Linked DNA regions of Homo sapiens. The protein of the gene in region 2 interacts with the protein of the main gene of each other region in a biochemical or structural test. Each region holds a gene or a part of one and is shown on either strand. Other genes may lie near its edges. The genes, in order: DISC1 and DRD2.

The links.
Region 1: the proteins of DRD2 (region 2) and DISC1 interact in a biophysical measurement, tested with the Homo sapiens proteins (one study listed by IntAct).

Annotation. Positions count from the first base shown.
Region 1 is NC_000001.11:231,629,790-231,633,606, reverse strand, and holds part of DISC1 (disrupted in schizophrenia 1 protein), read right to left. Parts: intron 1-3,817. UniProt on the Homo sapiens protein: Involved in the regulation of multiple aspects of embryonic and adult neurogenesis. Required for neural progenitor proliferation in the ventrical/subventrical zone during embryonic brain development and in the adult dentate gyrus of the hippocampus.
Region 2 is NC_000011.10:113,409,396-113,413,212, forward strand, and holds the end of DRD2 (D(2) dopamine receptor), read right to left. Parts: intron 3,489-3,817; coding exon 3,161-3,488; intron 1,526-3,160; coding exon 1,332-1,525; 3' UTR 210-1,331; downstream 1-209. UniProt on the Homo sapiens protein: Dopamine receptor whose activity is mediated by G proteins which inhibit adenylyl cyclase. Positively regulates postnatal regression of retinal hyaloid vessels via suppression of VEGFR2/KDR activity, downstream of OPN5.

The DNA.
Region 1 (3,817 bases), on a different chromosome or scaffold from region 2:
GCAGATGACTGCAAAGAAGCTATCTAGGCTTCCTGAAATGGAACCACCTGGGCAAGGGAAGGAAGCAAAATGTGGAAGCCCAATGAGCAGGGAATAGGAAATTTACACAGTAGCTCAAATCCTGCACAATCCCAATCCTGCAGGACAACGATCACAGCATCTTAGCACTGGAAGGGTTCCCATTCATCATCCAACGCAGCCCCCTCCCCAGTGCAGAACCCTCATGACAGTCACCCTAGAGTCATCCACACTGCCCTACATACTTCCAATGACAAAATGCTCTCTGCCTTTCGGGGTAGCCTATTCCATCAATGGATAACTATTTTTAGCAAGTTTTTAATTTAGTCAAAAAGTGATACCTTTCTAATGTGTGGCTGTCATGCTAATTCTAATTCTGAACCAAGTAGCCACTCAATAAACGTTGAATGAATAAATAATGAATTCATGAACAAATAGATTCTTAAGGATCCATTGACATTTAGTGTAACAATAGTAATTACTTGAAAATCTACGTGGTTTTTTGTTTGTTTGTTTTTTTGACGGAGTCTCTCTCTGTAGCCCAGGCTGGAGTGCAGTGACATGATCTTGGCTCACTGCAACCTCTGCCTCCCAGGTTCAAGCGATTCTCCAGCCTCAGCCTCCCAAGTAGCTGGGATTACAGGCACACGCCACCATGCTCAGCTGATTTTTGTATTTTAAGTAGAGATGGGTTTCTGCCATGTTGGCCAGGATGGTCTCGAACTCCTGACCTCAGGTCATCTGCCCACCTTGGCCTCCCAAACTGCTGGAATTACAGGCATGAGCCACTGCGCCTGGCTGAAAATCTAAGTTTTTAAGAGCCATCATAGCTCAAAAAAAAGGGATTCAGTTCAATTCATTTAATGTATCTTAAGCAGGGATGAATTATACAGAACTATGAAATGAAACACAACTTAATGAAAACAGTTCTAAGTAAAAGAAGAGGAGCCAGGTTCTAACAATCACTCTGCTGCTGTTTCTCACTTTTCTCACCTGTAAAAGAAGAAGGCCAGATTACATGATCTCTACTGCCACTTACAACATTCAATACTGTACAATAAATATATGATTTATCTTCAGAGATTGCCATTCCTCACCTCGAGGAGTTTACTGTCTTATTTGCATTTCTCTGAGAGTTCAAACTTTGAACTCTGAAAATAAACGGTAAATGTCCACCCATGACAGGCAAATGTTGTGGCTTAACAGGTAGAATTTTATCCACATTTTTTTATGATGAGCAAGCACAAGGCCACGTGGCTGGAAAATTAACCTGAAGTTGACATGAGAAAAATAATGTGGGGCTACTTATTTCAATCACAGTCATGCATCACTTATTGACAGGGACACTTTCTGAGAAATGTGTCATTAGGTCATTTTGTCATGCAAACACCATAGAGTGTACTCACAAAAACCTAGATGGTATAGGCTATGACACACCTAAGCTATATTGTATAGCTACTGTTCCTAGGCTACAAACCTGTGCAGCATGTTACTGTACTGAATACTGTAGGCAGCCGTAACACAATGGTAAGTACTTTTCCATCTAAACATATCTAAACATAGACAAGGTACAGTAAAAATACACTATAAAAGATGAAAAATGGTACACCTCTATAGGAGGCTTATCATGCATGGAGCTTGCAGGACTGGAAGTTGCTCTGGGTGAGTCAGTGAGTGAGTGGTGAGTGCACGTGAGGGTTGAGGACATAATTTCATGCTACTGTATTTATAAACGCTGTACACTTAGGCTATACTAAATTCATTTAAATTTTTTTCTCAACAATAAATTATCTTTAGCGTACCATAACTTTTTTTACTTTATATATAATAATTTTTAAATTTTTTTAATTTTTTGACTTTTTTATAAAAACACAGCTTAAAACACAAATACATTGTGCAGCTGTACAAAAATATTTTTTCTTTATATCCTTATTATCCTATAAGCTCCTATTTTTAATTTTTATTTTTTTACTTTTCAAACTTTTTGTTAAAAACTAAGACACAAACACACACACTAGCCTGGGCCTACCCAGGGTCAGGATCATCACTATCCCTGCCTTCCACCTCCACACCTTGTCCCGTTGGAAGGCCTTCAAGGCAAAAACACGCATGGAGCCATCATCTCCTATGACAACAATGCCTTCTTCTGATACCTCCTGAAGGACCTGCCTGAGGCGGGTTTACAGTTAACTTTTTTTTACTAAGTAGAAGTACACAAAATAACATTAAAATGTATAGTAAATACTAGGCATTAGGAAATTGACAGCCCAGTATAATCTTATGGGACCACTCTCACATATGTGACATTGACAAAACGTCATTATGCGAGGCATGACTGCACTTATTTTGAGACTATGTCTCTGCATACATAGTTCTCAGTAGCATCATTTGTTAAATAAGGATGCCGACATCTTACCTGCCAGAACACAAGGAGTTTAGCCAACTGGTGTTTTGAAGCTTCATCTGACAATAAGTTCTGTGATTCTGTTTATAAGTCTGTGACGAGTGACCCGAGTGACTGGAGGGAGCCCCATAATGTCTAGCATCCATTTCTGAGTCATGACAAAAAGCCAAAGGGGAAATGGGGCAGGGAAAGGAAGCAGATACAGGACCAGTAGTCATATAAGGGGCTGTGCACACCATGTGAGCCCCTGCCTACCTTCTACAGCTAAATGTCAGTATTTCATTCATTGCCCAGCCACAGTTCTCCCTTCCTGCTTCTACTTGGTGTGAACATTTGAAAGCTCATTGCAAAGTCTTCGCTCAAGAGAAACAGCTGGTGAACTCTGGTTTTGAAAGAAAAAATGGATTCTGAACGGCTAAAGCATCTGGAATTTTAAAAATTACATGATTGTTGCACAGAAGTCATTCGCTAAGGAATTTTTACCACAAAGTCATTAAAGTTAGGAACTAACAACGGAAGACTCCTCGAGGCTAAAAGTCTTATATTACTAAACGGTGCTGACTGAAAAATGGCTCTTCACCGGTGGTTCCAGCTGTGCCAGGAGGGGACCCTCCTCAACCCAGGGTGGCTGCCAAGGGAATCTCTGGAAACAGTGGGCTCTGCTTGGATTCATGAGAACACAGCATATAAACTCAATTACCATCATTATTATCAAAAGAATGATTCTGGCCAGGTGCAATGGTTCACATCTGTAATCCTGGTACTTTGGGAGGTCGAGGCAGAAGTTGCTTGAGGCTCAAGGTCAATCTGGCCAAAATAAGGAGACCCCATCTTTTTTAATTAAAAAAAGAAAAAAAAAGAATGATTCTAATTCTGGTCTAATGACCCTAACCTAAAATATTACCTTTTTTTGTACTCAGAAACTTTGTGTGCTGGTCTTTAAATCTTGTTTAAAGGGCCCGGCGCAGTGGCTCATGCCTGTAATCCCAGCACTTTGGGAGGCTGAGGCGGGCAGATTACAAGGTCAGGAGATCGAGACCATGCTGATCAACATGGTGAAACCCTGTCTGTATTAAAAATACAAAAATTAGCTGGATGTGGTGGTGGGCGCCTGTAATCCCACTACTCGAGAGGCTGAGGCAGGAGAATCGCTTGAACCCAGGAGGCAGAGGTTGCAGTGAGCCGAGATCGTGCCACTGCACTCCAGCCTGGCGACAGAACGAGACTCCGTCTCAAAAAATATATATATTGTTTAAAGGTCACCATTGTACCCTCTCTTTGCTCTGAAGGTCCTGCATCAAACTTTAACCAAAACCACAATAAAATTCAAATATCAACAATTTAGTCTCTAATCCTTCTCCAATCAAAATTTTTAGATTTTAAAAAAAGAAAAAG
Region 2 (3,817 bases):
TCCAAGGCCACCTTTTCCACAGAGCCTTCTCTGCCCTGGTGGGTAAGAGGGCAAAGGATGAGTCCTTCAGAGGAAGCAGGAGCTGCAACAGGGGAGGTGGAGCAGTGGGGGCAACCTGGCTTCCCTTGGGTTAGACCCTGCAGACACAGGGGTCTTGCTATACTTGAATGCCAAGCACAGAAGTGGCACTGCTGCCTTCTACCCAGGGGTCCTGGAAGGTGACTCGTCAAAGTTTTATTAGTTTGGTGCATGGATAGTGATGTTACAGAGTCTAGGCCCCAGGGGCTCTCCCAAGCTGCAGCTTCCCCTCCTTCCTCAGGGCAGGGCCAGGCCAGGCCAGATGGTTTTCAGCAGCCTCTTAGCCGTGGGCTCCTCTAAGGCAGAGGCAGTGGAAGGGAAGGGAAACAGGAGAGAGGAAAGGCCAGAAGGAATAGAAAAGGAAAGTGGTTTTGCGTCAGAGTGTGGCAGAGGCAGTCCCTCAAAGAACCTCTGATGTCCCCTAGCCCAGGCCCAGATAGAGTTCCAGGGCCTGACCTCCCTGCCAGGCCCCAGGCTGGCCAGCATGTGCTGTGAGAAGGGATACATTGCAGGGCCGTCAGAAGGCAGCAGGGTGGGCTAGGCCAAGGAGTTCCTCTCCCCATAGACCCTCCTGGGCCCTTCAAGATGAGGGCTCCTCTTCTCAGAGCATGTGGAAACCACTTGGGGAGCTGTAACGGGGTGAGGTGGGTCCGGACTAGCCTGGAAAGTAGAGGTCCACATCGGGGTGCGGGAGGGAGCTAAGGTTTTTGGCTTGGGAATCTCTGGGGTCCAACCTGCAGTCTGGTATTTACATGGGTCTCCCAGGACTGAAGTTGCCTGGCTCCTCGGCAAGAGAGCTTGCTTGCCTCCTGTGGGCCTTGCAGGGTGTGAACTGTCCATCTCTCCCCACCGCCTGCTCCACGCCAAGCCCCACAAAGAGAAAACTCAGCCTCTGGGCCCTGACTCAGGCTCCAGCAACCCTAGAGCCCCAGAGGAAGGTCAAGGAAGGCGGCTGCATCTTTGGTGCCAAGGATAGGGGGACTGGAGGTGGGAGGGGGGACTCTATGAGCTGCCCCTGAGCTGGGGGGCCCAGCCCCAGGGCTGGTACCATGCCCAGCTCACTAGCACTGCCCTGGCAGAGTGAGGGTGTGCGGGCAGTGAGGAGCATGGAGCCAAGCGAACACTGCAGGGCCTGCCGGGGTGAAGAGGAGGCCGATCCACCCAGGCCTTCCTGCTCACGGTTCGCAAGGGTGAGGCTGGCCGGCCTGGGCAGGGAGGTGGGAAGCAGGCTGCTGTGCGGGCAGGCAGCAGAGTCAGCAGTGGAGGATCTTCAGGAAGGCCTTGCGGAACTCAATGTTGAAGGTGGTGTAGATGATGGGGTTCACGGCGCTGTTGACATAGCCCAGCCACGTGAAGGCGCTGTACAGGACAGGCGGGATGTTGCAGTCACAGTGTATGTTCAGGATGTGTGTGATGAAGAAGGGCAGCCAGCAGATGATGAACACGCCTGGGGGAGAGGGCATGGTCAGGCTGGTCCCCAGAGCCGGGGAGGCACGGCTGGGAACACCCACACCCAGTGCGCCCTGGCTCGTATGCCAAGACGGTGGGCTGTAGCCACAGAAGCACTGTAGGAGGAGTCCAGGTCTTGGATCCTAGACCTGCCTCTGACACCCATTTGCAGTGAAGTATCCCTTCAGCTCCTTCAGCCTCACTTCCCTCATTTGTCCCTTTCCCACCTCCTAGAAAAGGGTACATGGTTTAACAATAAATCCAAAAGGTTACCATTCTGACCCAGGTTAGCCAGTAGAAATGGAAATATCTACTCTACTTCCAGGTCATCTTTGAGGGCTATAGACCCATGCCACTTAGTTCTTATAGCATCCTCATAAGGTACATAAGAAAAACACTCACAACAGCTCTGCAATATACCCAAGGTCATTCACTCTTGAGCAGCGAGGCTGAGAGCTGAACTCCGGTCTATCCAGGTCCCCAGATGATCTCGCTCTAGCCTTCCCCCAATTTCCCCAGTCTTGGTGGGTACACCCTTGCTAGTCCCTGCCTTGAACCATGCCCTCTCACCCAGGGCAGCCACCTACCTGCTCTGCTCACCTAACTCAGGTGCACTTTTTCCAGGACCTCCTGCACAGGTGTGATATTTATCCTGGAAGCAATGTGTACATGGAATGCCCTACAGGCACAGGAGGCATCCCTGGAGACTGAATGGTGTCTGGGAAGAGTAGGGCCACAGAGCTGAGCCCCTATGGACTGCAGCAGAGGGCCTGGCTCCAATCCTAGCCTACCATATCCCAGTCCCATGATCGTGAGTAGTCCCATGGGATCAAGTGCTCTCATTCATAAAAGAAGGGAGGTAACAGCTGCCCCACTCACGCCCCAGGATCATCCGGCAGTCAAAGGGGATTCAGGTGCTTCCTGGAAGACAGAGTCACAGGGGACCCTCCTTTTCCCAGCCACCCATATCAGTCCACCTTTTGGGTTTTGACCTTTACTATGTGGTTTTCTAGACTTCTATTGAAAAATCCTGCTTTATGGACAGGGATGCTTTTCATTTAGATTGGGGGCCACTCCCCAACATCTCATTTATTTTTCACAGCTCTGGTCCCATGGAGTCTTGTTTGAGTGCAAGTGAACTGAATTTCCCAATTCCTCAAAAAGAGCAATAGTAATAAAAACCATAATAGTGACACTTACATATGGATAGTGCTTTGTAGTTTAGAAAATGCTTTCACCAACTGATTGCCATGACAGCCCTGAGAAGTAACCTACTCTACAGATGAGGAGCCTAGAGAGAGAAAGTGACTTTCCTGGGCACATAGGCCCATGAGGTTCTGGTGCCAGCATAATAGACTAGTCAAATTTCCAGACTCTGGAGTCAGACTGCCTGAGTTCAAACCATGGGTCCTCTTGGTCAGGTTTTATAACCACTCTAAAACTCTGTTTGCCCATCTGTAAAGTGAGCACAATTACAGAATCTACCTAATAGGGCTGTCTGTATGTCAATGGGCTTGGCCTGTGCCTGAGGAAATGCTAGCCCCATGATCCTGCAGCCATGGTTAGGAAGGACATGGCAGGGAATGGGACCTTTCACAGACCGGGCTGTGGCCAGCAGCCAGGGCCGACTCACCGAGAACAATGGCGAGCATCTGAGTGGCTTTCTTCTCCTTCTGCTGGGAGAGCTTCCTACGGCTCATGGTCTTGAGGGAGGTCCGGGTTTTGCCATTGGGCATGGTCTGGATCTCAAAGATCTTGGCAATCTTGGGGTGGTCTTTGGCATGCCCATTCTTCTCTGGTTTGGCGGGGCTGTCGGGAGTGCTGTGGAGACCATGGTGGGACGGGTCGGGGAGAGTCAGCTGGTGGTGGCTGGGTGGGATGGGGCTGTACCGGGTCCTCTCGGGTGGGCTGGTGCTGGAGAGCATCTCCATCTCCAGCTCCTGGGCTCGCCGGGCAGCCTCCTGCACCAGAGGCAGAGGGCTCTGGGTAAAGCCGGACAAGTTCCCAGGCATCAGCCACCCATCTCACTGGCCCCTCCCTTTCCCCCTCTGAAGACTCCTGCAAACACCACAGGGTCACCCTGCCAGGGAGGCAAGGATGTCACTGAGGCATGGGACCCAGGACCCATGGCAGCCCCTGCAGGATTGCCCCTGTCCTTTTTCCCATGGCAATCCTCATGCAGCCTCAATACCCCACTTCTGTTCTGCCAGGGCTGAATACCAGGGACTTGTCTCTCATGGCCTGAGCAACACTTACTGTTAGCAAAGTGCCAGGTGCCACAGTGGCTGCT